6 separate regions of the Homo sapiens genome follow, and regions 1, 2, 3, 4 and 6 are each reported to be linked to region 5. The links are microRNA targets in miRTarBase. Many come from high-throughput screens and were not tested one by one. Region 5 holds a microRNA gene; each other region holds the end of a gene's coding sequence. Distances are between the middles of the regions.

What was found. The annotated mature microRNA hsa-miR-519a-5p reads CUCUAGAGGGAAGCGCUUUCUG and lies in region 5 at 2,653-2,674, opposite strand. An mRNA with a match to its seed (bases 2 to 7 or 8) in the 3' UTR can be bound and repressed. Matches are read on the target gene's strand: a 7mer-m8 pairs with bases 2 to 8, a 7mer-A1 pairs with bases 2 to 7 and ends in A, and an 8mer does both.
Region 1: the mRNA of TAF7 is a reported target of hsa-miR-519a-5p. Seed matches in the 3' UTR shown: 7mer-A1 at 4,270-4,276.
Region 2: the mRNA of SV2C is a reported target of hsa-miR-519a-5p. The part of its 3' UTR that is shown has no 7-base or 8-base seed match.
Region 3: miRTarBase lists TNFAIP3 as a target of hsa-miR-519a-5p. Seed matches in the 3' UTR shown: 8mer at 1,936-1,943.
Region 4: miRTarBase lists NFATC3 as a target of hsa-miR-519a-5p. Seed matches in the 3' UTR shown: 7mer-A1 at 1,047-1,053.
Region 6: miRTarBase lists NCAN as a target of hsa-miR-519a-5p. Seed matches in the 3' UTR shown: 7mer-A1 at 1,768-1,774.

What each region holds. Positions count from the first base shown.
Region 1 is chr5:141,314,415-141,319,487 of GRCh38, forward strand. TAF7 (TATA-box binding protein associated factor 7) reads right to left here. Exons shown (of 1, transcript NM_005642.3): 1 at 4,076-5,073. The coding sequence ends at 4,581. Among named protein-coding and RNA genes, the nearest start is that of TAF7, 3.8 kb to the right of the region's middle.
Region 2 is chr5:76,324,839-76,329,911 of GRCh38, reverse strand. It overlaps SV2C (synaptic vesicle glycoprotein 2C), which reads right to left. Exons shown (of 13, transcript NM_014979.4): 13 at 1-4,548. The coding sequence ends at 4,365. Among named protein-coding and RNA genes, the nearest start is that of SV2C-AS2, 16 kb to the right of the region's middle. RefSeq lists an enhancer at 3,981-4,480.
Region 3 is chr6:137,880,923-137,885,995 of GRCh38, forward strand. TNFAIP3 (TNF alpha induced protein 3) reads left to right here. Exons shown (of 9, transcript NM_001270508.2): 9 at 113-2,390. The coding sequence ends at 397. Among named protein-coding and RNA genes, the nearest start is that of WAKMAR2, 15 kb to the left of the region's middle.
Region 4 is chr16:68,225,843-68,230,902 of GRCh38, forward strand. NFATC3 (nuclear factor of activated T cells 3) reads left to right here. Exons shown (of 10, transcript NM_173165.3): 10 at 508-3,417. The coding sequence ends at 629. ESRP2 (epithelial splicing regulatory protein 2) reads right to left here. Exons shown (of 15, transcript NM_024939.3): 13 at 4,999-5,060; 14 at 4,547-4,712; 15 at 3,191-4,473. The coding sequence ends at 4,384. Among named protein-coding and RNA genes, the nearest start is that of MIR6773, 5.1 kb to the right of the region's middle. RefSeq lists an enhancer at 1,595-1,644.
Region 5 is chr19:53,684,085-53,689,157 of GRCh38, reverse strand. It overlaps MIR519C (microRNA 519c), which reads right to left and starts at 2,689; the gene lies at 2,603-2,689. MIR515-2 (microRNA 515-2) reads right to left here and starts at 4,149; the gene lies at 4,067-4,149. MIR1283-1 (microRNA 1283-1) reads right to left here and starts at 677; the gene lies at 591-677. The region is part of intron 2 of LOC107985342 (a long non-coding RNA gene); the gene reads right to left.
Region 6 is chr19:19,249,118-19,254,190 of GRCh38, forward strand. NCAN (neurocan) reads left to right here. Exons shown (of 15, transcript NM_004386.3): 15 at 649-3,116. The coding sequence ends at 794. Among named protein-coding and RNA genes, the nearest start is that of HAPLN4, 11 kb to the right of the region's middle.

The DNA of each region.
Region 1 (5,073 bases), not on the chromosome of region 5:
TCTTAAGAATTAGATTGAATGGCCAGATAGGGTTACCAGAGAAAATAAGGGTTGAGTTGGGCCTTCAGTGACAAAAAGCTATCCATGAGAATATCTGGTGACTATTCCAAGAAAAGAGAACTGTAAGTGCTAAACTGTAGGAGGAAAGAGCTGAGTAAATTTGTTTATGCTGCAGATAAATTTGAAGCAAACCGTTTCTGCTGTAACCTAATTTATAAGCTTTCATTTAGAATTTTTTTTCCCATCTGAATTTGGTTGAAACTGATCTCTAAAATTTCTTAAATTTGAAAACAATTACATTTAGAATAGTTGTTTCCCTATAAACACTTTTTCTAACATTTCAGTCACTCTTTAATTATTTAGTATCTGTTATGGTCCATACCTTAATGGGTTGTAATAGTGGTAAATTTACTTCTGTTGTTTACTTACTATGTTCCAGGCATTGTTCTAAATAAGTCATTTATATGATTCAGCAGCCAGCAGCCAACAGCCCAATAACCCTATGAGGTAGGTAGTATTATTGCCTCCACTTTGGAGATGAGAAAATTGAGGTAAACAGATTGCTACCTGTGCAAGGTCACACAACTAATAGGTAACTGAGCTAGGATACGAACCATGCATGACATGTCTTGATGTTAAGATTTTGATCTTTCTACTATTCTTCAGTAAGTTTACAGTCACTAATGTAGCAAAATATCTCAGTAAATTTAAAGCCAAGCAGGAGATACGAACAAAGGTAATTTACACTTTAGTTATAACAGATACTCATCCCAGTAGACCGTGCAGTGCATGAGTTTATAGACACTAAATGCTTTGTTCATCACTGCATATCCAGTAGCTTGTAGTTTGGTGCGCGCGCACACACACACACACACACACACACACCCCTTGTAGTTTGGCACACACACACACAAAATGTTTGTCAAATAAATGAGAGAGGGAAGAACAAAGTGCAAAGCCGTAATAGGGTTGCTTAACCTAGAGGGAGAAAAGGGTCAGAAAAGCCTTGCTGAAGTCACTTAGGTTGAGACCTGAGGGTTAAGTAGGACTCAGACAAAGGGTAAAGTCATCTAGGTGGAGTGAACTGCTTGTTAAAAGGATCTATGGCCCAGGAGTGGGAGAATGAGTAAGCTCCTTGAAAAAAATGTAAGTTCAGAGTGGACTGACCATATACTGAATGCGGAGCTGAGGCTGAAAAGGTAAATGGAGAACTCATAATCTTGTGCATCTTTTTGAGAAATACAAACCTAGCCCTGAGAGCAATGAGATGTCACTGAAGGGTTTTCAGCATGGTAGTAACACAATCAAATATGTCTCAGAAAAATGAGTTTGGTGGCAGTGAAAACTAAATTGGATGGTAAAGAAGCTATTGCCATTTGATAGATAATAATAATGGCTTGAAATAGGACAGTGGCTGTAAGGATGAAGTAGAGTGAGTGAAGAACTTCTTAAGTAAAATCAAAAGTAGCAAGGGAAAGGGAGAAATGTAAAGTTATGGCTCTAGTGTCCAGCTTCCACAGTTGGGATGTGTGGTGGTGCCATTTATTTTTACTGGAACCCAGAAGGAAAAGCAAATTTTCAAGGAAGAGGAAAAGTTCCATTTTGAACCTGTATTTTTTTTTTTGAGATGGAGTTTTGTTCTGTTGCCCAGGCTGGAGCACAGTAGCATGATCTCGGCTCACTGCAACATCCACCTCCCAGGTTCAAGCTATTCTCCCACCTCACCCTCCCAAGTAGCTGGGATTACAGGTGCCCACCACCATGCCCAGCTAATTTGTTTTGTATTTTTAATAGAGATGGGTTTTGCCATGTTGGCCAGGCTGGTCTTGAACTCCTGACCTCAGGTGATCCACCTGCCTCAGCCTCCCAAGGTGTTGAGATATAGGCATGAGCCACTGCACCCGGCCATTTTGAACATTTACACTTGAGTTGCCTGAGAGATACTTTCAAGTATGTTTCTAGTACACATCTGGCTAAACTAAACCTGAAGCACAGAAGAATCAAGGTTGGAAACGTGGATTTTAGAATCCACTTAGAACTCATAACTGAAACAGGAATAGTGAGATCAATATACTATTTTGTTATTGTATCCAGAATCTTTCCTTTCTGTTATTGATGGAACTGCCACCATTGGTGTTGAGACCTTGGTAAGAATAAACTACTTGATAAATGATCCACTGTAAAGCCAGATATGGTGGGAGCTTTTCAGGTGTCAATCTTCTAAGTGTAGCAAAATACCTAGATTACAAAAACAGTAAATTTTGTCACCTAGCATCCTAAACTGTTTTTTTGTTGTTGTTTAATATATATTATTTGGAAACCTCAAGAAATAATATAAAACCTAGATATTGAGGGAAACCTTGCTTAAGCTTACATATTCTGTGCTAAAATCCTAGTCACGGCCAGGCACGGTGGCCCACGCCTGTAATCCCAGCACTTTGGGAGGCCGAGGCGGGTGGATCACAAGGTCAAGAGATCAAGACCATCCTGGCCAACATGGTGAAACCCCGTCTCTACTAAAATTACAAAAATTAGCTGGGCTTGGTGGCACATGCCTGTAGTCCCAGCTACTCCAGAGGCTGAGGCAGGAGAATCGCTTGAACCCAGGAGGCAGAGGTTGCAATGAGCCAAGATAACGCCACTGCACTCCAGCCTGGCAACACAGCAAGACTCCATCTAAAAAAAAAAAAAAAACTTACTCATAAAAACGTTTCACTTAAAAAGATAAATTAGCCTTCTGAAGTCTGCAAATGTCAGCATATTTAATTATAGACCTGAGGACTAGGTAACTTTTTTTTTTTTTTTAACATTTCAATACTGTTTCTTGTCAGATAGAAGTAAAATGGACTTTAGGCCGGGTGTGGTAGCTCAGGCCTGTAATCCCACCACTTTGGGAGTCCAGGGTGGGCAGATCACCTGAGGTCATGAGTTCAAGACCAGCCTGACCAACATGGTGAAACCCTGTCTCTACTAAAACTACAAAATTAGCCAGGTGTGGTGGCACATGCCTGTAATCCCGGCTACTCGGGAGGCTGAGGCAGGAAAATCGCTTGAACCCAGGAGGCAGAGGCTGCAGTGAGCCGAGATCACACCACTGCACTCCAGCCTGGGCAACAATAGCAAAACTTTGTCTTAAAAAAAAAAAAAAAGAGGCCGGGCGCGCTGGCTCATGCCTGTAATCCCAACACTCTGGGAGGCCAAGGCGGGCAGATCATGAGGTCAGGAGATCAAGATCATCCTGGCTAACACAGTGAAACCCCGTCTCTACTAAAAATACACAAAAAAATTAGCTGGGCATGGTGGCGGGCACCTGAGTAGTCCCAGCTACTCAGGAGGCTGAGGCAGGAGAATGGTGTGAACCCAGGAGGCGGGGCTTGCAGTGAGCCGAGATGGTGCCACTGCACTCCAGCCTGGGTGACACAGCGAGACTCCGTCTCAAAAAAAAAAACTTTAAATATTTTCAAACCCAAGCTTCTCATAAACCAACCTGTCAAACAAATTGCATACAACTCTGCCTCTTTTATCAGTAACTGATTTTTCAAAAATAGCTTATGTTGTGAGGCATTAGATTATCTTTAGAGCATGAGAAATTTGGTACCAACTTCCTTTATGAGCAATTTTGATGAAATGACATTGATAAATGACCTCAGTTCTCAGAATATTAATTATAGGAACTCAACTGAAGAAAATTAGAAATATTAATCCAAACCAATGGAATGGTTCATTGGACTGCACTTGATAACCACTGCTTTGTTTCCAACATTTTATGCAGGTAGATTTAGCGCTTTTTAAAAAAGGCACAAAGGCCTTCATCTACAAAAATTAGGGTACTTTAAGAAAGCTCTGTATCTAATGTTTCCCAGCTTTCAAGTAGATCAAATAGAATTGGAATCTTAATATGATGCAAACATGACCATTCCCAATTTCTTTACCCCTGCTGTGTTCCTTTTTTTCATAAACCCTACTGCCTCTACCTGCAGAACGGGATCAAATTGCTTAGTCACTAAACTCCACCATAAAACCACCTCACAAGAGGACCTGACTCCCACCAACCATGAAAGAACAAGATACACTATAAAGTGAAAAACAGATGCTTTTATTTATTGTATTGGAAACAACTTAATAATTTGCATCTCTACATATAGAAAGCTGCTTTGAATAACTGGGAAAACAATTATTGCATAGGAAAACATATGCAAACTAGCATCATTGTCTCTAGACTAGGTTCTTCTTATTGATCTCACGTCATCACAAAGCAGCAACAGCAGCTTCTAGAAAATGGAGAAACAGTAAAGTCCTGCAATGAAGCTATAATTAAGGTTGAACCATACATTCCGCTAATCCTGCAACTTTCCTACAATCATTTTTCTGCCTATACAATCCTGCTTCTTATAGGATGAACACCTAGCAAAACAATATAAATTTGCTGAAAAACAAAATTACAAACAAATGAAAGAACTTAACAGAACACACAGCATTAAAAGGACTAGGAAGAGCAAGGTCTTAATACCCAGTACAATAAAGCCAAGAATTTTCTAATGCTGACCAGTCTGAAGACTGAAATTAAATATCAGTTCTTTTTACTTCTCTAGGAGTGATTCTAGCTCCTCTTGCAAAGAGCTGAGTTGCTCCTTTTCTCGGTCTTCCTTTTGTTTGAGCTCATCCAGTACAGCCTGAAATCTGTTCTTGAGAGCCAGATTTTCCACTTTCATGATGAGATCCTCTTGTCGTTTTGCCCTGTCCTGGGTCTCTTGGAGCTTGCCTTTCATGTTGTCAATCTGCTTCTGAATTCCCATAACCAGCTGATTGGTTCCTTCATTTTCCTGGTGCTGTTCATCTGATTCATTTAGCTTGTCCTGTAGCTGTCTCTCCAGATCTTCCTCCGTGTCAATGATGTTTATATCTTCTTCATCTTGATGCTGGGTCTCATCTTCATCCTCACTGCTGCTGCTGAGGTCATTGAATATCTCCCGAAGCTCATCATGTTCTAATGAGTCATGGCCCTGCCTGTGACCAGACATTCCTGGAGAAGAGATATCCAGGCCTTGATTTTCTGCCTCCTTTGTTTCATCT
Region 2 (5,073 bases), not on the chromosome of region 5:
ACGATGTGAGGATTAAAGAAAACCTAACATACAGCCGATATGCCCCTTAACACCAATATCCCAGTTGTCTTTCTGTGATACCAGGTGAAGGCCAAATTCAGACATTCCTGGCTCCAGAGCCTTTAGTGCATGAACAGATCAGGTATATTACTGAAGAAATAGGTAAAGGCCATTTTGACATCAAACAGAAAAAAAATTGGAGAATATCATATTCTATCTATTTTGATTGGCAGAGGGAATCAGAAAGTATTCCCCTGGACTGCTTTGGAAATGACCCCAGCATTTAGAAAGTCTCTGCTGTGTCCTAATCTCTTTGCTGGAACCTTATCAGTGGTATCTTGGACTCTCCCTTCTGTCACTACATTTCTTTTCCCACCTCCCCTTTGATCTCTTAAGGTATCTTGAAAGACAACTAAGCAGTTTTTGGTGAAAACCTGAACTCTGATTTGGTGAGATTTGTCTATTTGCCAATATAGGTAAAATCACTGAAAAACTGTTTCTGAAGCCTATGTATAATACTTAAGGCCATGTTTCAAGAAAATAATGGAATAAACAGTCAGGAGAGCTGTAGGGTAATATTGCAATTATAGTCTTCTAACCTAAGCGCGTTTATCTGGCAAGGCGGGGCCCTTTTCTGGCTGGGTGATGGTAACTGTCAAACCTGCAGTGAACAGAGATACTAGTCAGGATGCTGAGATGCTGGCAGGGCAGACAGCATGGGGACTGTGCTTTCTGGCCTATTCCATGCGGGCTTCCCAAACAACTTCCTACACTCTTTTTATGCGTGCCTATTTCCTAATTTTTCAGTTTATAAACTAAACCTATTTAGTGCTTGTAAAAATGAGTTGAGGCCGCCAGTGGCTCACGCCTGTAATCCCAGCATTTTGGGAGGCTGAGGTGGGCCGATCACTTGAGGTCAGGAGTTCGAGACCAGCCTGACCAACACGGTGAAACCCCACCTCTACTAAAAGATACAAAAATTAGCTGGGCGTGGTGGCGCATGCGTGTGGTCCCAGCTACTTGGGAGGCTGAGGTGGGAGAATCACTTGAACCTGGGAGGCGGAGGTTGCAGTGAGCAGAGTTCCCACCACTGCACTCCAGCCTGGGCAACAGAGTGAAACTCCACCTAAAAAAAAAAAAAATGAGTTTAGCATAAGAAGGCAGATAAGATGAAGCTATTTTCATTACTGTCTTCTACAATGCTGGAGAGTGGAGAGCAGACTAGTCCCAATCCTTTATTTTGTGCACGGGGAAAGTGAGAACTAGAGATGTTCAACGACTTACAGTCTCCACAGCAAGATCTGGGTCCCTGTACCGCTTAGTGGTGAAGGTCAGGCTAGGACCCATCTATCGCGTCTCCAAGGTCTGTACTCTGGTGTGAGATGATTCAGGCAGCAGGACTGAATGTGAGTTGGGTGCCTTAAAACCCAATACCTGGGATAGAATGTGGTACATACAGAATTCACAGTTTGAAGCAGTTGTTTGTTTTTCCCTACTGAGAAGATTCTGTGATAATAATGGGACTTGGGAGCATTCTGGATTGATTCCAAAGAGCAACAGGGAAATTTTAGTTAGAAAAGGTGGTAAAAATATAGGAGCAAGTGGACTATTTCCTAGGTTTTCATTTTTGTACAAATTTTCATTTTCCTTCTACTGTAGGCGAAATGAGATGCCAGTTGCGTGTTTAGGTGCCAGTGGCCTGCTACACTGATACAACTGAGAGTTTCTGTTTAATATCCTGGCTGTTTCTTAATCTCCAGCTAAATCTGGAGCAAGCTATACAGGCCACACCACATGCTTTGGAAATGATTTGAGCTCTCTTAGAAAATCAAGGTGATGAACAGTCTCAAGGAGGCAGGGAAGAGTGCACAAAAGGTGGGAGAGGTGGTGACCAAGAAGGTTTGTGACCACAGACTGTCCAGGAGATGAGAAAAGATCCCTCTTAGGCCACCAAGGATGCTTGGATTAGGTAACAAGTAGGCCAAGAACGGTCCTTCTGCAGGGGACACGGATGGCAGGTCTCATGAAGTAAGGTTTTGCTGGTTTATCCTATGCTGACCCAACCCAGTGTTCAAATAAAATTCTGAATAACTGTGCTCTGCAGCTTGGGAGATGTTTTATGCATTTAGACCCCAGAGCAGACATTAGAGATATTTTGAAAAGTAAAGGTAGTCTAGTTAGCAAAGTGAACTATCACAGAGGACTAGAGACAGCGATGCCCATGTACATTTCTATTTTTCTTTTGATGGGTTGATGGAGATGCACTCCTGGCTTTTGCAGTTATTTCTGCACATGCTGCATTCAACTAAAAGACCTGCTCAGGTCCCCAAATGTCTTTTTAAAGAAGACAAATCAGGGAGAGATAGGTGGGAAAATGGGTACATGTGGAAGAAGAAAAACATACAGGGTACTTTCTTGGGTTGTTTGACTGCTGTCTTTGTTCTCCAATAAAATGATAGGAGGCAGAAGTGAGAGAAAGTTGTTTCTTTCCCTGTGCGGTTGGTATCTTTCAAATGCATCTTGTCTAGCCTTCAGTGATTTTTCTTCTTCCTGCCACCTTTGCAGTTTTTGGTTCGGGTTTTCCTGATGTTCTAGCCCTGATCACAGACCCCCAGGGAACCACCCTCTTCCCACTGCCCCCAACACCAGTCTTCCCCCCTCTGCAGACCTGAATTACTTCAAGGGGAAGTCGATTAATGGCTTATGTTAATGAAAGAAGCTTTTCACTTAGTCTGAGCTCTGCGAGGGATCATTAGGAAGGGGAGGGGGAGGCAGGGGGGCCTCAGGGGAGTTAGGACATCTCTGAAAATAATGATCAGTGGAAACAAAAGCTTTCCCTTCCTGGAGGCCCCAAGCTATGGCTTGCCTGAAAATGCCTATAATAAGTAACAAGAATAAACCTCTATCGAGGCAGTTAAAAAAGGAATATTGTTTAAATATGGGATTTATTCCTGGCTTCTGGTCATTGGCTGCAAGTCTACAAGGAAGGTTCAGATTTCAAAGAAGAGGTGTAAAAAGGACGAGCCTGGGGGAAGGGGAGCCTGAGAGGCGAGAAGGTCATGTAGCTGACAGCGGGCCCGTGGGAATGTCCTGGCTGACCTCTTTCTTCCAAGCCCAGGCAGATTCCAGAGGTAAAATGAGCAGTCAAACAACCACAGGGAGATGGTCTGTCTGTGAGAGGGGCCCTCAGGAGTGCAGGCGGGCTGTGATTTTACAGGGAGCCAGGAGCGCATTGAGCAGTGGGCCAGCCCTGGGGAAGCTAGAGGGACAAACCCTCTTTGCTGATGCCAGCTGGGAAGCTGAATGTCAACTGCGGGCCAGGTGGGGTGGGGGTCCTGGCGGGCCAGTCCCACAGCAAAGAGGTACTGGAAAGAGGTACCATTTTGTATTTCCAAATGGCTCTGGGTGTGAATTTCTTCCTAATTTGCAATTTACAATTTAGCTATCCACTGGCAATCTCTAGACTAGAGACAGTGTGGGTAAGTGGCAGAATCAGGTAGGCAGACAGTTTTTAAGAAGCAGCTTTCTTTCCCTGAATCTGCTGTCTGGCAAGACCAAGGGCAGCTGAAGGAGTGGGAGTGGTAAATGGAGGCAGAAGCTCTCTCTCGGATCTCTGATTTTCAAACATTCTGAACCACATGCCACAGTCACAGATACTGTTACAGTTCTTTTTCCTCACACTTTTCAGAGGTTTAATTGGGCTTTCTGACAGAAATCTTGCTTATGCAGCACACTCAGATTTTTGCTGCTAATTGCAGAGCTTTTATTTTTCTTGTCAGCGGTCACCTTAATTGTCTTGCCCCAAAGAGCCCCACCCAGCCCTGTTTGGTGCCACATGGTTTTCTTTGAAAGGCTCTGCTATAACAGTGAGAATTACTGGGTGTCCTTTTCTAAGTAAACAGGAAATATCACTCTGTTAGAAAAAAAAAAAAAAAGAATCCCTCTTCTCAGCACAAATGCAATAATGTGCCGACTTATATTTCCTGTTAATGTTAAATTAGGAGCAGGATCTATTTCTTACACCAGCCCAGTCTTCTTAGCTTCTAAACTTTCAATGAGCAGAACCCCAGGGAAGCCTGGCTGCCTAGGGCATTTTAGAAATGCTTCCACTGATTTGCGGGAGGCAGTAGCATCACAGTTTGGAAAGATAACAATGCATTCAAACAAAACAAAACAAACAAACAACCTGTGCAAAATCACAAAGGGGCAAGATGATATGCTTCTAAATTTTAAGTCACAGCACGTGTTTATGTTCTGATACTTGATCACCTTTCTATATAGGAAAACTCTGAAGCCTTGAGTCAGGAAGGAGAATTGACCCAGGGCAGGAGGAAGAAACGCAGGAAGGATGGCTTTTTTTCCCATTACATCAGAACCTGGGTTCGTGTGTCAGGCAGGCACAGCCCAACGAGTCCTCCACACACGAGCACAGTAGAAGCCAGCAGGATGGGGATTGATTTGGTGATGCTGACCAGAGAGCCAAATATTAAGTTTCCCAGGACGGCTGCTGCCTTGCATAGCGCATTTAAGAAGCCAAAGCCTGTTGCCCTGCAAAGGAAAGAGACATGAACAAGGTTGAGAAAATGCCTCCCCATGATTCCAACTTTAGACCAAAAGATCCTAGATTTTCAATGATCTTCCCTCAGATTGTGTTGTATATCAGTGGAGCAAATCAATGCTTGTTAGCAAATCTGGGAGTAGAGAATCCTAGCTGTTGGTATTGTTCCTCCAGCCCTCTGTTGACTTTCTTACCATAGCTTCCATTGACTCTTACTCTGCCTGTAAGTCCCAATGTATTGTGAACAGAAAGAGAGAAAAAATTGTAGGGAGTACGAAACATCTCTAGTGGTTTAACGTTGTTGGAAGGAAGGGTCTTTTTCATTTTTATAGAGATTAGGTCTTGCTCGGTTGCCCAGGCTGGAGTGCAGTGGCATAGTAATAGTTCACTGCAGCCTCAAACTCCTGGGCTCAAGCAATCTTCCCACCTCAGCCTCCTGAGTAGCTAGGACTACAGGTGCACACCACCATACACAGCTAATTTTTATTTTTATTTTTGTAGAGATAGGGTCTTGC
Region 3 (5,073 bases), not on the chromosome of region 5:
AAAGCTCTTTGTAGACTCCACACTCTCCAATGAGATTTCATTGTGCTCTCCCTAAGAAATGTGAGCAATAGTTTCCTGACTTTTTAATGATCTGCCTGTTCTTTCCACTCAGAGATCGAGCCAGCGCAGAGATGTGCCTCGAACCACACAAAGCACCTCAAGGCCCAAGTGCGCCCGGGCCTCCTGCAAGAACATCCTGGCCTGCCGCAGCGAGGAGCTCTGCATGGAGTGTCAGCATCCCAACCAGAGGATGGGCCCTGGGGCCCACCGGGGTGAGCCTGCCCCCGAAGACCCCCCCAAGCAGCGTTGCCGGGCCCCCGCCTGTGATCATTTTGGCAATGCCAAGTGCAACGGCTACTGCAACGAATGCTTTCAGTTCAAGCAGATGTATGGCTAACCGGAAACAGGTGGGTCACCTCCTGCAAGAAGTGGGGCCTCGAGCTGTCAGTCATCATGGTGCTATCCTCTGAACCCCTCAGCTGCCACTGCAACAGTGGGCTTAAGGGTGTCTGAGCAGGAGAGGAAAGATAAGCTCTTCGTGGTGCCCACGATGCTCAGGTTTGGTAACCCGGGAGTGTTCCCAGGTGGCCTTAGAAAGCAAAGCTTGTAACTGGCAAGGGATGATGTCAGATTCAGCCCAAGGTTCCTCCTCTCCTACCAAGCAGGAGGCCAGGAACTTCTTTGGACTTGGAAGGTGTGCGGGGACTGGCCGAGGCCCCTGCACCCTGCGCATCAGGACTGCTTCATCGTCTTGGCTGAGAAAGGGAAAAGACACACAAGTCGCGTGGGTTGGAGAAGCCAGAGCCATTCCACCTCCCCTCCCCCAGCATCTCTCAGAGATGTGAAGCCAGATCCTCATGGCAGCGAGGCCCTCTGCAAGAAGCTCAAGGAAGCTCAGGGAAAATGGACGTATTCAGAGAGTGTTTGTAGTTCATGGTTTTTCCCTACCTGCCCGGTTCCTTTCCTGAGGACCCGGCAGAAATGCAGAACCATCCATGGACTGTGATTCTGAGGCTGCTGAGACTGAACATGTTCACATTGACAGAAAAACAAGCTGCTCTTTATAATATGCACCTTTTAAAAAATTAGAATATTTTACTGGGAAGACGTGTAACTCTTTGGGTTATTACTGTCTTTACTTCTAAAGAAGTTAGCTTGAACTGAGGAGTAAAAGTGTGTACATATATAATATACCCTTACATTATGTATGAGGGATTTTTTTAAATTATATTGAAATGCTGCCCTAGAAGTACAATAGGAAGGCTAAATAATAATAACCTGTTTTCTGGTTGTTGTTGGGGCATGAGCTTGTGTATACACTGCTTGCATAAACTCAACCAGCTGCCTTTTTAAAGGGAGCTCTAGTCCTTTTTGTGTAATTCACTTTATTTATTTTATTACAAACTTCAAGATTATTTAAGTGAAGATATTTCTTCAGCTCTGGGGAAAATGCCACAGTGTTCTCCTGAGAGAACATCCTTGCTTTGAGTCAGGCTGTGGGCAAGTTCCTGACCACAGGGAGTAAATTGGCCTCTTTGATACACTTTTGCTTGCCTCCCCAGGAAAGAAGGAATTGCATCCAAGGTATACATACATATTCATCGATGTTTCGTGCTTCTCCTTATGAAACTCCAGCTATGTAATAAAAAACTATACTCTGTGTTCTGTTAATGCCTCTGAGTGTCCTACCTCCTTGGAGATGAGATAGGGAAGGAGCAGGGATGAGACTGGCAATGGTCACAGGGAAAGATGTGGCCTTTTGTGATGGTTTTATTTTCTGTTAACACTGTGTCCTGGGGGGGCTGGGAAGTCCCCTGCATCCCATGGTACCCTGGTATTGGGACAGCAAAAGCCAGTAACCATGAGTATGAGGAAATCTCTTTCTGTTGCTGGCTTACAGTTTCTCTGTGTGCTTTGTGGTTGCTGTCATATTTGCTCTAGAAGAAAAAAAAAAAAGGAGGGGAAATGCATTTTCCCCAGAGATAAAGGCTGCCATTTTGGGGGTCTGTACTTATGGCCTGAAAATATTTGTGATCCATAACTCTACACAGCCTTTACTCATACTATTAGGCACACTTTCCCCTTAGAGCCCCCTAAGTTTTTCCCAGACGAATCTTTATAATTTCTTTCCAAAGATACCAAATAAACTTCAGTGTTTTCATCTAATTCTCTTAAAGTTGATATCTTAATATTTTGTGTTGATCATTATTTCCATTCTTAATGTGAAAAAAAGTAATTATTTATACTTATTATAAAAAGTATTTGAAATTTGCACATTTAATTGTCCCTAATAGAAAGCCACCTATTCTTTGTTGGATTTCTTCAAGTTTTTCTAAATAAATGTAACTTTTCACAAGAGTCAACATTAAAAAATAAATTATTTAAGAACAGATTGTGATGTTTTCAATTGATGAATGCTGAAAGAAAAAGAAAGGCTTGGATATTAAGACTGTGCTTCCTAAGCAGCTTTATTTTGAGGTGCACCTGAGCAATGCACACATCTCTCATCCATGGTAGCAAGGCAGCTTTTCATAAATAATAACTGTATGAGGTCCAGGCCCAGTCCTCAAGCACAAGCCCCCGCTTGACAATGAAGACACTCTTCCTCTGATGGGAAGAGGAAAGGGATGCTAGGACCCTGTGGCCCTTTTAAGCTTCCTGCCCTAAACTTTTATAAAGTGAAGAAAGAGAAAACAAGAGGGAGGAGGAGGGAAAGACAGGAAAGAGAGAAGTAGGCAGGCAGGAAGGAAGACTGATGTAAGATCTCCTGGGTCAGACAAAGCAGAGGAGGCAGCGTGGCTGTGCTGGCTGCCAGAACCAGGAAATTAAAAAATAACACATTCCTCCATGCGCAAGCCTTCATCCCCACCTCCCATCCAGTACAAATGGACTCACAGACGACTGATTCAGCAGGACTGCGCAGCTCCCAGAATCTACTTTTTTAAGCTCCTCGGGTGATCTGGATGATCAGCCAGATTTTAGAATCACACTTTAAAAAATATATTTATAATTTTTTTTTAACTTTTTAAAAGTAGAAAACTTTAATAAGAAAGTGACAAGTACTATAAAGAGCCACTCTATAGCCATCCTCCAGTTTCAATAATTACCAACGTTCTGCCCAATTTGTTTCATCTATCACATCCTCTTTTTTGTTTTTCCTGGACTACTTGAAAGCAAATCCCAGATATTGTGTCTTCATACCCATAAATATTTCAGTGTGCACCTCTAATTGAATAGAATATGTCCTTTTAACATAACCACCATTATCAGAGCCAGCTAAATTATTTTATTCTTTAATATCCAAATTCCAAGTATGTATTCTAATTTCTCAGTTTATCCACCATACAAGACAAAGTCTTATTGCTTTCGTTTAGTAAGGATCTTTTCTTTTTTTTTTAATGTTTAGCAATATTTATTAGGACGTATACCTACCTTATGATCCAAAAATTCCAATCCTAGGTATACACTCAATGGTATACACTCTACTCCTAGCTATACACCCATAAAACAGAAATGCATGCATATGTTCACCAAAATATGGTACTAAAATGTTCATCTCAGCAGTATTCATAATAGCTCCAAACTACAAACGATCCAAATGTTCATTAACAGGAGAAAAGAGAAATATATTGTGGTATATTCATATAATGGATTATCATATAGCAGTAAGAGTGAATAGGCACCTGTAGTTCCAGCTACTCAGGAGGCTGAGGTGGGAGAACTGCTTAAGGCTACAGTGAGTTATAAGGCTCTATTTATTTATTTATTTATTTTTGAGACAGAGTCTTTTTTAAATTTTTTTTTATTATACTTTAAGTTCTGGGATACATGTGTAGAACGTTCAGGTTTGTTACATAGGTATACATGTGCCATAGTGGTTTGCTGCACCCATCAACCCATCATCTACATTAGGTATTTCTACTAATGCTGTGCCTCTCCTAGCCCCCCTACCCCGTGACAGGCCCCAGTGTGTGATGTTCCCTTCCCTGTGTCCATGTGTTCTCATTGTTCAACTCCCACTTATAAGTGAGAACATGCAGTGTCTGGTTTTCTGTTCCTGTGTTAGTTTGCTGAGAATGATGGTTTCCAGCTTCATCCATGGCTTTGCAAAGGACATGAACTCATCCTTTTTTATGGCTGCATAGTATTCCATGGTGTATATGTGCCACATTTTCTTTATCCAGTCTATCATTGATGGGCATTTGGTTGGTTCCAAGTCTTTGCTATTGTGAATAGTGCCCCAATAAACATACATCATACATGTGCATGTGTCTTTATAGTAGCATGATTTATAATCCTTTGGGTATATACCCAGTAATGGGATTACTGGGTCAAGTCGTATTTCTGGTTCTAGATCCTTGAGGAATTGCCACACTGTCTTCTACAATGATTGAACTAATTTACACTCTCACCAACAGTGTAAAAGCATTCCTATTTCTCCACATGCTCTCCAGCTTGTGATGTTTCCTTTTTTTTTTTTTTTTTTTAGATGGAGTCTCACTCTGCTGTCACCCAGGCTGGAGTGCAGTGGTGTGATCTCAGCTCACTGCAACCTCCATCTCCCGGGGTCCAAGCGATTCTCCTGCTTCAGCCTCCTGAGTAGCTGGCACTACAGGCACCCGCCACCATGCCTAGCTAATTTTTATATTTTTAGTAGAGACGGGGTTTCACCATATTGGCCAGGCTGCTTTCGAACTCCTGACTTTATGATCCACCTGCCTGGACCTCCCAAAGTGCTGGGATTACAGGCATGAACCACCATGCCCGGCATTTCCTGACTTTTTAATGATCGCCATTGTAACTGGCATGAGATGGTATCTCATTGTGGTTTTGATTTGCGTTTCTCTAGTGACCAGTGATGATGAACTTTTTCTCATATGTTTTTTGGCCGCATAAATGTCTTCTTTTGAGAAATGTCTGTTCATATCCTTCACCCACTTTTTGATGTTTTTTTTTTTTCTTGTAAATTAGTTTAAGTTCTTCGTAGATTCTGGATATTAGCCCATTGTCAGATGAGTAGATTGCAAAAATTTTCTCCCATTCTGTAGGTTGCCTGTTCACTCTGATGATAGT
Region 4 (5,060 bases), not on the chromosome of region 5:
AGAGAAATTAACAGAAAAGCTAGAGCCTCCAATCAGAAAAGATCACAAACAACAGAAATGCCCCCACATAATAAAGAGTGCTTGTATTAGGATACAGTAGCAAAATCACCCCCACATCACAGTGGTTTATTCTGACCAAAGCATTTATTTTCATTCCATTTACATAGGAGGTGGCATTGTAGAAAATAAAAACTTTCTCAAAGAGATATGAATTAAAGAAAAGTTAGAGTAAGGTGAATACTTATTTAAACATACCTTTAGAGTGAGGGTAAGCCCCCTTCCCAACCCAAAATGAACTGAATGAGAGAGAAAAAGAGGTCCAGAGTAGTTTGTGGAGCGATGTTTCCATCTCTAATGCCACTCAGCTCAGGAGCAGGCTTCAGACACTGCCTTTATCTTTACAGAAAGCCATGGGAAGGGAAATGTCTGAGGTAGAGCTCAGCGTTGGGCATCATATGGCTAATCACTCAGAGGTCACTAATCACTCTCCCTTTTCTTGTTTTTCAGTGAACGAGATAATTGGGAGAGACATGTCCCAGATTTCTGTTTCCCAAGGAGCAGGGGTGAGCAGGCAGGCTCCCCTCCCGAGTCCTGAGTCCCTGGATTTAGGAAGATCTGATGGGCTCTAACAGTGCTTACTGCAGCCTTGTGTCCACCACCAACTTCTCAGCATGTTTCTCTCCTTGGACCTTGGGTTTCCAACTCTGCAGCCTTCAGGTCTGGGGCCAGGAGTGGGACCCACCATTTGTGGGGAAAGTAGCATTCCTCCACCTCAGGCCTTGGGTAGATTTGGCAAAAGAACAGGAGCAGCATAGGCTGTTTGAGCTTTGGGGAAATGAACTTTGCTTTTTATATTTAACTAGGATACTTTTATATGATGGGTGCTTTGAGTGTGAATGCAGCAGGCTCTCTTGTTTCCGAGGTGCTGCTTTTGCAGGTGACCTGGTTACTTAGCTAGGATTGGTGATTTGTACTGCTTTATGGTCATTTGAAGGGCCCTTTAGTTTTTATGATAATTTTTAAAATAGGAACTTTTGATAAGACCTTCTAGAAGCAAAAAAAAAAAAAAAAAAAAAAAAAAGAAAAAAAAAGAAAAGAAAAAAAGAAAAAGAAAAAAATATCCCAAGCCCACACCTATGCCTCAGAAAGTCAGCATGTGTCCTGAAGACGTTCATAGATTTATAGGAAATAAAGCCAAATGTAGCTCATACCTCTTTATAAAACTAAACTGTTGTTAGATAAAATGAGAAGAGACCATTCCATCATTGAAGTGTTGGAATATAAAAAGACATTCCAGAGCATAGCCTTTTGGTAACTTTCTAGGTAATCTTGCAATCTCTCCATACTGGCTCCATGTTGAAATTGCTTTTTCCCTCAGGACCCTGGGTAAGATGGCTACATTTAAGGTGACTCTGAATGGTGGGGTTCTAGCTTGGTCACTTTCATTTCTTGCCATCATAAAAACTAGTAGGCTGTGGAGTGCGCTTCCTGTTTGTGTCATCTGGTCGTAGAACCTTTTCCAAACAGAAGCATCTGCCTTTGGCTGTTCTGTGACCTTTGAAGCCAGTCTCAGTGGTTTAGGCAGCTTTGCAGTTCTAACTCTAGCTAGAGGCCAGGCTGTGTGCAGAGCTAAAGCACAAATGAGCAGTACATCAGCATGGGCAGAGAAAATACAGGACTCCAGATGGGAAGGTTTTAAGAGTCACACTGGCATGGAAGGCTTATCTGCCATTCTATTTATAGCCTGAAATGATTCTGGCCTACCCTGTCCTGTCTGTATGATCTAAAAACCAGCCTTTTCCCCAGAAGGCTCTGAGCACATCCAGAAGTGATAACCTGACCCTCCACACCAAAGACACCCTGGTGCTGCTGCTGGTGAGACTGGTGTCCAAGGCAGGGCCCAGCAGAAACTGCAGCCTGCTGTCTACCAAAGGAGGTACCCGAGTTGGGTACTTTAAAAAAAAAAAAAACCTGCCCTTACCCCTCTCCCTAATGGGATTTTTTTTACCTGTTCCTGGGCCCATTACAGAGCCTCTGAAGTTTGCAGTATGCTTTCAAATGAAATAATATACTTCCATTGATTCAGGAAGCAGATTTTTTGAGTGCCTATATGTGAGACAGTGTGCTGGTTGAAGGCCTGATGCTGTTATTCCAGGAGACTGCAGGCCCTTGATGCCAGGACTCTCTCTACTAAGGCCAGTTCAGGTCTGGGAAAGGGAGCTGGCCTATTGCCCACCACCTGTTGTCAGTAGGTTAGGAGCTGTTGACTCAGGATGAGGAAGTATGGTCTTTAAAAAAAACAAAATATATTTTAGATTTCTCCCCTAAAGTTAGTTAGAGAAAAAGGTCTATTCTTCAGCAGATCACTGTGGCCCCTCTTGGAGCTGGGTGTTTTCAAATTTTCTTGAAAAGTGAGTTGTGTCACAGAATGTGGATAGTGAGATTTGCTTCTGGGCCTGTGGTTGGACGCCCACAGCTTCCTTTGGAGGGGCAAGAAGTTGGCCTCTCGGTTGACATTCCAGAGAAATGGCCAGACTTGCCCCTACCCTTTTGCCCCTGGTGTAGCTGCCTCACATGAGGTTATTGCAAGAGTTCCCCTTGCAATACCCTTTGTGCCCTCAAGAATTAAAAGCCTCTATGATCCAGAGTTGCTATGCACCAAATTTTGATGCCTTCTAAATACCTTGATGCCTGTAGCACTAGAAATGCTTTCCTATTTAAAATAAACATTAAATTTTAAAATAGAGCTTTGTATACTATGTAAGCAGTTTTATATCAGCTTTGTAAAAGCTTTGGTGTTAAGAGTCAATATTTTTTGGCTTTGTAGATAAAGACTTAAATTTTTGTGCAACATAGTGGTGTTAAAGCACACATCCATTGGACTATGCAAATCAATTTCTACTAGCAGCACTGAGCAACTGGGCACGTGCTAGTACGCACCCCCTCCTACTCTAACTGTGCTAGCTCTTGGGTTGAGGAATGGAATGGGTAGCCTTCTGCTTACTGGAGATGCACAGAGAAACATGGCTGAAAACAGCTTTAAAAAGAACATGTCTTTGGGTTCATGTGTGGTGCTGCTGCCCGGGTGTAAACTATCCCCACCCAGGGCCAGCCATTATCACCAGACCTCTTCTGGGCCTGGCTGTGAAGCCCTGTTTTTGGTATTCAGAATGGATCTTTAAGGCTCAGATGGGCTCAAATTGAAACCTTGTGTTTTATAAAATGGATGTTTAGTAAAGGAACTGGTTCTCAGTTATGTTTACAGCACTTGGAATTGTGTGTTCTTGTACATTTTGTATTTTAAAACCTTTTATGGGAGTGCAGTGCTCCTTACACAAATACAAAGGGAAGAAGAGCCAGCAGTTGAGGCTCCTCAGTTTTAGTGCTGAAATAATAAACAGTGACAGGTCAACAGTATCCTTAATCTGTCTGAGTGTTCCTCCGCCTGGGGTTGGTGTGGAGCCCCTCACTTTGGGGCAAAGTTAAGGGTCCTGTGTCTTTTAAAAAGTCCATTTGGTCAATAACTTTTCATTTAAGGAAGAGAAGATCGAGTTCCAAATTGCTTCCGAGGCTTCAGTTCTGTACCATTTAATGCGTGCAAAGGACATTCCATGGTGTCTGCTGGGTTCAGGGCAACTGGCTTTCCCAAGGCATACAAGAAAAGTTGGCAGAAAGTCCTCCCCTTTAAAATTCAAGCCTGAAGGTTTTGTGTGGGGGCCTACTGCCCCCTAATGTCTTCTGGTGATACTGCAGCACAGTCCATCAAAATAGTTTGTGGTTTTGCCATCTGTTACTCCTTATGCCCACCTGGAGAGGGGCTAGCATCTTTAGGTGGGACCACCCCTGGCACAACATGGTCTCTGAGGTCCAGATACTCTGAGGGTAGGGGCTGGCTCTCTCTGCCTCCCTATCCCCTACAAGAGGGACAGGGAGAGGTAGAACATTGGGATCTTTACTCAGAGGCTCAGATGGACCCTTGATTCTCCCAGGAGTCATACATTGAAGGTACCAGAGCTTCCATTTTATAAAAGAAAGCAAGCCTGCCGTGGACCTGTCAGCCCCACGATATCTGTCGGCATGGGCCACAGCCAGGACAGACTTAAGGGCTCTCCAGGTGCCAGTCAAGATGCCTGGCTCAGGCCATCAGGAGCTGGTTAGCCCCATTCCACCCCCAGCCCTGCATGCAGGGTCCAGCCATTGTCTTTGGGGGAAACAGGCAGAATAAGTGGAGGATGGAGCTGGGGCTTGGGCTCCTCTAGGTACCTTCTGAGAGCTTTGACAAGCCAGAAAGAAGCTACCAGGTTGAGGGTGCTGGTCTTCTGGACTCAGGAGAGACATGTTCGCCGAGGATATCAGCTGGCTCTTACCTCCTGGCTTTCTCTCCTACAAACACACCCATTCCTTGGGGGCTTGTAACACAGTGCGAGGTGGGTCACCAACAGGCATCAGACTGGTGTAGTCATCAGCGGGTAGCTACAGAAGGGACACAGATTTAGGGCAGAGAGCTCAGCCAGACCCGCCAGGCCCTCCGGCCACACAATCTCACCTGGTAGGCCTGGAAGACGCTGAGCAGATCCTTCATACCAGCCGTGTATGGGACACCCTGCATGCGGACCAAGGCTCCTGACTGGGACAACACTGAGGTGGGAGCAGAGGCCAGGGCAGCAGTGGGTGTAGTGAGGTAGCCCACAGTGGTGGGGGAGACTGGGGGGCTAGGGTGGGAGAGACAAGGTTTAGTCATGCATGCCACCTGTGGCCTAGACCGAGACCTGTTTCCCTCCTCCCTTGTTTCTGCCTTGTGCTTAATTCAGTTCCTCCCTGAAGCCCCAGCCTCTACAGAGTCATTTTCGATCTGTTTTGTAGATGGCATTAGCCAGCTGCCACCTTACTCCCTTGTCATCTCAAGGGAGGAGTTATCTGGTCCAGAAAGGGGATCGTGACCTTTCCCCAGATTGGGACAGGGAGTGGGACTGTGATATTCTCTTAGCTGCAGGGTACCTTGGGTAGTAGGCTGTGTAGTTCAGGTAGAGTTGAGTGGCTGGCCCTGGATAGTAGGCAAC
Region 5 (5,073 bases):
TCCTGCAGAAAAAGGTCTATTCCGAGAAATAAGTGGAAGCTGTTAAGCAAGAAAAATTTTCGATGTCAGGGACGAGCAGATTAAATTAAAAAGACAGGAATGGGCCGGGCACGGTGGCTTATATCTATAATCCCCAGCACTGTGGGAGGCCAAGGAGGCAGATCACTTGAGGTCAGGAGTTGAGACCAGCCCCGCAAACATGGTGAAACCCCGTCTGTGCCAAAAGTACAAAAACTGGCAGGTCATAGTGGTGAGCATTTGTAATCCCAGCTACTAGTGACACGGAGGTGGGAGAATTTCTGGAACCTGGGAGGCAGAGGATGCAATGAGTGGAGATCATCCCACTCTACTCCAGCCTGGGTGACAGAGCCAGGCTCCATCTCAAAAATGAATACATAAATAAATAAAAAGAGGATCACTTGAGCCCAAGAGAGCTAGGTTGGAAGTGCCACCGCACTCCAGCCTGGGCAACGGAGACCCTGTCTTAGAAAAACACAAAACCAAAACATAACCCCGCTATCATCCAAGTCTGATGATAAGCATGCTCTGCAAATGTATTACCAAGATCAGCATCAACTTCAACACTGCTTTTCTCAAACCGTAACCCTCAAAAGGGAAGCGCTTTCTCTTCTTTCTGACAACAGAAAGCGCTTTCCTTTGTAGACTCATAGCTTGAGATCTTCTTGCTCCAGCACTCTGGGTTTCGTGTTGGAATTTTCTTTGACCAGGTTTAAATGGACAGAAAAATAAAGATGCATTTAGTGGCCCTGTTTGCATGTTTTCTGGAATCCAGAATAAAACGCCTGAAAAGGACCATCTCCAGTTCCTTGCTTCAAAGGCTCAGCAGGTTAGCCTTGTTCATCAAGGGACAATCCTCCCGAGTTTTGTTCTCAAACAGAAAAAGCAATGCCTACTAGACATACCTTATACTTAACCAAGAGAATTGGACTGGATTTCCAGAGAACAGCAAATGGATTCTGAGCCAAGTGTTCATTTGAGTTCCAGTGCGGAGACACACAGTCCCATTGGAAACATCCAAAATGTGATCTAAGATGTTGAACTATATACATTGTCGCACACACAAACATCCTCCAGGATAGACCACAGGCTAGGTGGTAAAAGCTCCTCAATAAAATTTGAACAGGAATACACAAGTACCAGTTGGGTGTGGTGGCTCATACCTCTAATCCCAGCACATCAGGAGGCCAAGGCAGGAGATTCACTTGAGCTCAGGAGCTCAAGACCAGCGTGTACAACACGGTGAAACCCTGTCTGTAAAAAAATACAAATGTAGGCCAGGTGTGGTGGTACATGCCTGTAGACACTAATTCAGGAGGCTGGGGTGGGAGGCGAAGGTTGCAGTGAGCCAAGACTGAAACACTGCACTCCAACCTGGGCGACTGAGCCAGATCTTGTTGCAAAAAAAAATTTAAAAGAACACACAAGCAAAAACCACCCCAAAGTGATATCAGTCATCTCTGTGTGTAGAAGAGTATTTTTTGTGTATATAATTATATATATGGCTATATGATGAAATATACATCATATATAATATATATATACACACAAACACACCCATATATATATTTTTTTTTTTGAGACAGAGTCTCTCTCTCTATATAAATATATATGTATATATATATTTTTTTTTTGAGACAGTCTTATTCTCTCGCCCAGGCTGGAGTGTGGTGGCGTGATCTTGGCTCACTGCAACCTCCATCTGTCCGTTCAAGTGATTCTCCTCCCTCAACTTCCCCAGCAGATGGGAATACAGGCGTGCGCCACCATAGCTGGCTAATTTTTTGTATTTTTAGTAGAGACAGGGTTTCACCATGTTGGTCAGGCTGGTCTCAAACTCCTGACCTCAAGTGATCCACTCGCCTCAACCTGCCAAAGTGTTGATATTGCAGGCATGAGCCACCGCTCATGTCGTATACACACAAAAACTGCTCATATACTCATGCGCCTGGCTGTACATCATTTATTTTCCAGACCCTATCTCAAAAAAAAAGAAAGTTCCATATACTGTATGCTCACATAAAGAATTACTCCTACACATAAATGTTTGCTCCACACATAAGAAATGAATGGAGTGACAGAGATCACCATGGCCCCTGTGCAGAGGTGATGCCCAAATTCATGATGGGTCTCATATTGAAAATTAAGATCAAAGGCCGGGTGCAGTGGTTCATGACTGTAAACCCAGCACTTTGGGAGGCCGAGGCAGGTGGATTACGAGGTCAGGAGATGGAGACCATCCTGGTCAACACGGTGAAACCCCATCTCTGCTAAAAATACAAAAATTAGCCGGGCGTGGTGGCATGGGCCTGTACTCCCAGCAACACAGGAGACTGAGATGGGAGAACCACTTCAACCCGGGAAGGGGAGATTGTAGTGAGCAGAGATCGTGACCCTGCAAAGAGGACCACCTGAGCCCAAGAGAGCTAGGTTGGAAGTGCCACTGCTCTCCAGCCTGGGCAAAAGAGACCCCGTCTTAGAAAACAAACAAACCAGGAACAAAAGCCCACCCTCATCCAAGTCTGATGATAAGCACGCTCTGCAAATGTATTGCCGAGATCAGCATGAACGTTAACGTTGCTTTTCTCAAACTGTAATCCTCTAAAAAGATGCACTTTCTTTTCTTTCAGACAACAGAAAGCGCTTCCCTCTAGAGGGTCACAGGCTGAGATCTTCTTGCTCCAGCACCATTGATTTTTTGTTGGAATTTTCCTTGACCAGGTTAAAATGGACACAAAAATAAAGATGCATTTATTGGCCCTGTTTGCATGATTTCTGGAATCCAGAACATAAACCCCTATCAGGGCCATCTCCAGTTCCTTGTTTCAAAAAGCAATGCCGACTATACATACCTTATATTTAACCATGAGAATTGGGCTGGATTCTAGAGAACAGCAATAGATTTTGAGCTAAGTGTTCACTCGAGTTCCAGTACAGTGACACACAGTCCCGACGGGGGCATCCAAAATGGAATCTACGATGTTGAAGAATATGCATTGTCACACACACAAACACCCTCCAGGAGAGACCACAGGCCAGGCTGTAAAAGCTCCTCAATAAAATGAGCAGAAACACACAGGTACAGGTGAGGTGTGGTGGCTCACACCTCTAAACCCAGCCCTTTAGGAGGCTGAGGCAGGAGTATCACTTGAGTTCAAGAGTTTGAGACCAGCCTGGGCAACATGGTGATACCTCATGTGTAGAGAAAACAGAAAAGTTAGCCGGGCGTGGTGGTGTGCGCCTGTAGACAGCTACTCAAGAGGCTGAAGTGGCAGGTGGAGGTTGCAATAAGCTGAGATGGCACCACTGCACTCTAGCCTGGGTGACAGACCCAGACCTTATCTAAAAAAAAAACAAAAACATACACACACAAACAAAAAATTACCCAAAGTGATACGAGAGTATTCTCTGTGTATAGAAGAGTGTTTTGTGTGTATATGACTATGTTACATGTATAATAAGAATATGATAAAATATATATTTTTGAGACCGTACATCAATAAAAATTAAGTTCCATATACTATGTGCTCACATGAAAAATAATTCCTACACATATGTGCTTGCATTGGCAGCACACATTAAAAAAAATTGGAGGCTAGGCTGGGTGGCTTACACCTATAATCTCAGCATTTTGGGAGGCTGAGGCAGGCGGATCACCTGAGGTCAGGAGTTGGAGACTAACCTGGCCATCATGATGAAACTGCATCTCTGCTAAAAATGCAAATATTAGCCAGGCGTCGTGGCACGTGCACCTGTAATCCCATCTACTTGGGAGGAGAGGTTGCAGTGAGCAGATAACATGCCACTGCGCTCAAGCCTGGGCCAGAGACAGAGACTCTGTTTCAAGAAAAAAAAAAAAAGCAAGCACGGGACCACTTGAGCCCAAGAGATCTAGGTTGGAAGCGCCACCGCACTCCAGCCTGGGCAACAGAGACCCCATGATGCAAAACAACTAAACAAAAACAGAACCCCAACATCATGCAAGTCTGATGATAAGCACGCTCTGCAAATGTGTTACCAAGATCAGCATCAACTTCAACGTGGTTTTTCTCAAACAGTAACGCTCCAAAAGAAGGCACTCTGCTTTCAGACAACAGAAAGTGCTTTCTTTTGGAGAATGACTGCATGAGATCTTCTCGCTCCAAAAGTCTGGGTTTTTTGACGGAATTTTCCTCACCTGGTTAAAATGGACACAAAAATAAAGATACATTTATTGACTCTCTCTGCATGTTTTCTGGAATCCAGAATATAAACCCCTAAAAGGACCATCTCCAGTTCCTTGCTTCAAAGGCTCAGCAGGTTAGCCTTGTTCATCAAGAGACAATCCTCCTGAGTTCTGTCCCCAAAGAGAAAAAGCAATGCCTACCACACATACCTTATATTTAACCATGAGAATTGGGCTGGATTTCTAGAGAACAGCAATGGATTTGAAGCCAAGTGTTCACATAAGTCCCAGTACAGGGACACACAGTCCCCATGCAAGCATCCAAAATGGAATCTAAGATGATGTTTAAGAATATACACTGTTGTACACACATTCTCCAGGATAGAACACAGGCTAGGCCATAAAAGCTCCTCAATAAATTTTTTTTTTTTTTTTGAAACAAGTCTCACTTTGTTGCCCAGGCTGTAGTGCAGGGCCGTGATCTCAGCTCACTGCAAGCTCTGCCTCCAGGTTTCCAGCAATTCTCCTGTCTCAGCCTCTGGGGTACCTGGGATTACAGGCACGTGCCACGATGCCCACCTAATTTTGCATTTTTAAAATTTTTTTTTCTTTTTTTTCTTTTCTTTTTGTGGAGAACAGGGTCTCACTGTATTGCCCAGGCAGGTCTCAAACTCCTGGGCTCAAGCTATCCTCCTGCCTCTGCCTCCCTAAGAGCTGGGATTACAGGCGTGAGCCACCGCGCCCGGCTAATTTTTGTACTTTTAGTAGAAATGAGGTTTCACCATCTTGGCCAGGCTGGTCTCAAACTCCTGACTCCAGGTGATTAGCCTGCTTTGGTCTCCAAGAGTGCTGAGACGACATGCCTGAGCTACCGTGCCTGGCCTGCAGAC
Region 6 (5,073 bases), 34 Mb from region 5:
CCAGGCTGGAGTGCAGTGGCACAATCTCGGCTCACTGCAACCTCCCGGGTTCAAGCGATCCTTGTGTCTCAGCCTCCTGAGTAGCTGGGATCACAGGTGTCCACTGCCATGCCCGGCTAATTTTTGTATTTTTAGTAGAGACAGGGTTTCACTATGTTGGCCAGGCTGATCTCGAACTCCTGAGTTCATGTGATCAGCTCACCTCAGCCTCCCAAAGTGCTGGGATTACAGGCGTGAGCCACCACATCCGGCCTGGTTTTGTTTTTTTTGAAACAGAGCCTCACTCTGTTGCCCAGGCTGGAGTGCGAGGCTCAATCACAGCTCACTATAGCCTCATCCTCCCAGTCTCAAGGGATCCTCCAAACTCAGCCTCCCAAATAGCTGGGACTACAAGCATGTGCCGCCACGCCTGGCTAATTTTTTTATTTTTGTAGAGATAGGTTCTCGCTATGTTGCCCAAGCTGGTCTCAAACTCCTGGCTTCAAGAGATCCTCCCACTTTGGCCTCCCAAAGTGCTGGGATGACAGGGATGAGCCCTCGCGTCTGGCCTCTTTCCTCTACTTTCTCTCCCAAGGACACCCGCTGCATCAGGCCACCTGCCTCTCACCACCTTTTGTCCCTTCCCTGTCCTCCCTCACTTCCCTGCAGCCAGACGTTCACATCGGATGCGGCGACACCACCACCACCACCAACACCACCACCAGCATCACCACCACAAATCCCGCAAGGAGCGCAGAAAACACAAGAAACACCCAACGGAGGACTGGGAGAAGGACGAAGGGAATTTCTGCTGAAGAACCAGAAAAAAGAAAGCACAACACCTTTCCCATGCCTCCTCTGGAGCCTTCGCCTGGGGAGACAGAACCCAGAGAGAAACAAGAGAGTCCAGAAGTCCCTGAACCCCAAACCACATCCCCCACACACATAATCCTTTGTACAAAGCTCCTCTTTTCCCTTTTTTTACATACACAAGATCCTCTTGGCAGGTGGAGCCAGGTGTCTGAAAAGTTCATTCTCGTCTGGCTGAACTCTGGGAGTGTGTCCCAGCTGAGGGAAGCACAAGTAGCAAAGCTCATTGGTCTGGTCTCTTGTTTGCCAGGCTGATTGAAGCAGGCCTTGATGAGGGTGCATGAGTGTATGTTTGCATTCACATGAAGGAATTGCTTTTCACACCAGAAATTCAGACTTAGTCAATGTTGGCTGAATTCCTAAATCCAGGAAGAAGCCTGGACGTAGGGTCATTAGCTTTGGGAATAGAAGGCTACACAGAAGCACACTGTTTTTGAACTTGACAACAGCTCTCCCTTTACCCTGGACTTCAGCCCAAGTTCCGTCTTTGGTCTTGGTGGATAAACACACAGTGTGGAGATCCCACGTACTGCATTTTAGGGATGTTTTTAGGACAACCTCCCTCCATGCCTTCAGAGTTAGGAGTGAGAATGATCAAAGCAATATGTAGGTGATGGAGGGAGAGTGTATTGCTAACCCTTCCAGGTCTAGTCCAGCGCTGAGATTTGGTGGTTCTGCATGTGTGATGAATCTCTTTCACACAAATAGACGAGAGGATATTTAGGGCTAGATGAGCCCAGATTTCTTCCCCCTCCATCTCTCAGGGAGACAAAGAACCTCCTTCCTGGACCAAGGAGGTGCTGCCAAGTTTTCTAGCCCAGTGCACATACCCAGTCCTTAAGCAGACATTGGTAGTGCCCCTGCCCTGGGTCCCACTCCTGCCCCACCCCACCCTTGTCCCTGGCCATTGCCTGGTGGTCTAGAAACACTTAAAACTTGAAGTAGTGACACCTACCTGCGGTCATATTGTAGAGAGATGCTCAGTGTTAAAACTGAAACACACAAACACACACACACACACATTTTTCTCTTGTAGATTTTAATTTTTTAAGTGGGAAAGAACTCACCTTGCCTTCCTCCCCCAAATGTGCAACCTGTAAAAGGTCTCTCCACACCAGGGGCCAGGATCCAGTTCCCTCATCTCTGGCAGGAAAGATCCACAGCTTTTCCTCCATGTCTGTTACTCACTTTCAGCAGTCCGGGTAAAATCTGTGGATCAGGGTTAAAAAAGCACCGTGGAGAATGGCCCTCTTCAGGAAAGAAAAATAAGCAAATGAATGGTCCACCTAGGGGTTCAGTAAAGAAAGAAATGTGTTAACTGAGCCTGAATCCCTTCTGGGAAGTAATAATGACCATTGACAACTAAGAAGTAGACACCATGCTAAAGACTTACATACAATCTCCTTGAATCTTCTCAATAGCCCATTGACTTAGAAACTGTTACTTTCCCATTTTACACACAGTGAAACTGAGGCTCAGATATAAAGGAAAGGTACTGGCTTGAAGTCACAACCACGACAGGAGTAAGGATTTGGAATAAGGATTTGGTCCTGTTTTCTGGACCAAATCCTTACTCTGGCTCTGCTTACACTTTCTCTCCATCACCAAATCCTTACTCCAAATCCAGAAGTCAGAGCCAACTCCCATCTTGGTTCTGACCCAAATCCTGCTCTGGACTCTGGAGAGGAGATTGAAATATAATTGCACCCTCATACACATTTAGGAAATGGTTAAGAAGTGTAAACTGAACCCTTATCCTTGTCTTCAATCTTCCTCCCTGTAGACATCTATCTTATTATGGTTATTATTCAGAAAACCCAGGGATACAGGTTTGTCTTCTTACTTTGATAACTCTTCTTAGTTTAAAATAATAATAATAACACATCTTTGGTCATCTATGTCACACAAAAATTTTCCTTTGTTTGCGGGGGGCTGGGGATGCAGTGTTTTTTGGGGGGTCTTGGTTTATGCTCCCTGCCCTTGAGCCCCTCAGCCGTTTGCCCTGCCCCCACCTCGGCTCCATGGTGGGAGGGGGCTCTGGTCTTTTCTAAAGTGGGCGGTTTGTCTTTTGATCTTTCCCTTTTGGATGTGCGTGTGTGTCTGCGTGTGCCATGTGCGTGGCACGCATATGAGTGTGTGTGCGTGTGAACGGCTTTGGGTCCTGCTGGTTTTGCTGTGAGCTGCAGTGTTCTGTGGGTCTGTGGTATCTGACACTGTGGACATTAATGTACTTCTTGGACATTTTAATAAATTTTTTAACAGTTCAACCTGCCCGTCACCACCTGATACCTTCATTCATTCATTCATTCAGCAAGTATTTACCCGAGCAGCTATTGTGATCCATGTACTGTACTGGGTGCTGGGGAGATAGTGGTGAACAGAGAAGGTTTGGTCTTTAGTGGGTAGTCACAGAAGGCTTCCCCGAGGAGGGGAATGGAATCTAAAGAAGAAGTCGCATTAACTAGATGAGGAGAGAAAGAAAGGAAAGGCATTCCACTCAGAGGAAAGAGTGAAAGCAAAAGTCTTCTTGCAGAAGGGAGCGGGCGCAGTGGCTCATGCCTGTAATCCCAGCACCTTGGGAGGCCGAGCCAGGCGGATCACAGGGTCAAGAGATCGAGACCATCTTGGCCAACATGGTGAAACCCTGTCTCTATTAAAACTACAAAAATCAGCTGGGCATGGTGGCATGCGCCTGTAGCCCCAGCTACTCAGGAAGCTGAGGCAGGAGAATCACTTGAACCCAGGAGGCAGAAGTTGCAGTGAGCTGAGATGGTGCCACTGCACTCTAGCCTGGCAACAGAGAGAGACTCCGTCTCAGAAAAAAAAAAAAAAAAAAAAAAAGAAGGGCTCACTCGAATCAGTAGGAAAAAGACAAATCCATTAGCCAAGCAGGCAAAAGATATAAAAAAAAGTTTACAAAAAAGGAAATAGCAGCTCTAAAACTACAATATAGACTCAATAAAATAATACACATTTTGCAAGAACATCTAGATTCACAAGGAAGGACATAAAAATATAAGAGAATAAACAAATGTATCAAAAGATGGCCAGCATGGTGGTTCACGCCTGTAATCCCAGCAATTTGGGAGGCTAAGGTGAGCAGATCACATGAGGCCAGGAGTTCAAGACCAGCCTGGCTAACATGGTGAAACCCTGTCTCTACTAAACATACAAAAATTAGCCAGGTGCGGTGATGCGCACCTGTAATCCCAGCTACTCAGGAGGCTGAAACAGGAGAATCGCTTGAACCCAGGATGTGGAGGTTGCAGTGAGCCAAGATCACACCATTGCACTCCAGCCTGGGTGATAGAGTGATCTCCATCTAAAAAAAAAAAAAAGATCCTTGCATATATCAAAGATGATAATGTGCTTGAACTGTGAATGATTTACGATTTGCTCGACCGCCTGCACCTAAGGTCAAAGTTGGTGGTGGTGGTTGGAGATGTTCAACCTCACAAATAGAAACGCAAGCAACAACCACATTGAGATACCATTTTTCACCTATCAGATTGACAAAAATAAAAAGTGACAAGACATGAGGCTAATGAGGATGTGTGGAACAGGTGAGTACTTTTTTTTTTTTTTGAGAAGGGGTCTTGCTCTGTTGCCCAGGCTGGAGTGCAGTGGTGCAGTCTCACCTCACTGTAACCTCCGCCTCCTCAGTTCAAGTGATTCTCCTGCCTCAACCTCCCGAGTAGTTGGGATTACAGGTGCCTGCCACCATGCTGGGCTAATTTTTGTATTTTTGGTAGAGATGGGGTTTTGCCATGTTGGCCAGGCTAGTCTCGAACTCCTGACCTCAGGTGATCCACCCGCCTCGGCCTCCCAAACTGTTGGGATTACAGCCGTGAGCCACCATGCCCAGCCAGGTGAGTATATCTATTACCTGTGGAGTATAAATTGGCCCCATCTCTAAGAAAATGTGGAAATCACTATGAAAACGGCGAGTTTTAGTCTGGGCACAGTGGCTCATGCCTGTAATACTAGCACCGTAGGAGGCCAAGGCAGGTGGATCACCTGAGGTCAGGAGTTCGAGACCAACCTGGCCAACATGGTAAAACCCCATCTCTGCTAAAAACAGAAAAATTAGTTGGGCGCAGTGGCAGGCGCCTGTAATCCCAGCTACTTTAGAGGCTTAGGCAGAAGAATCGCTCGAACCCGGGAAGCAGAGGTTGAGGTGAGCCGAGACCGTGACATTGCACTCCAGCCTGGGCAATAGGAGCA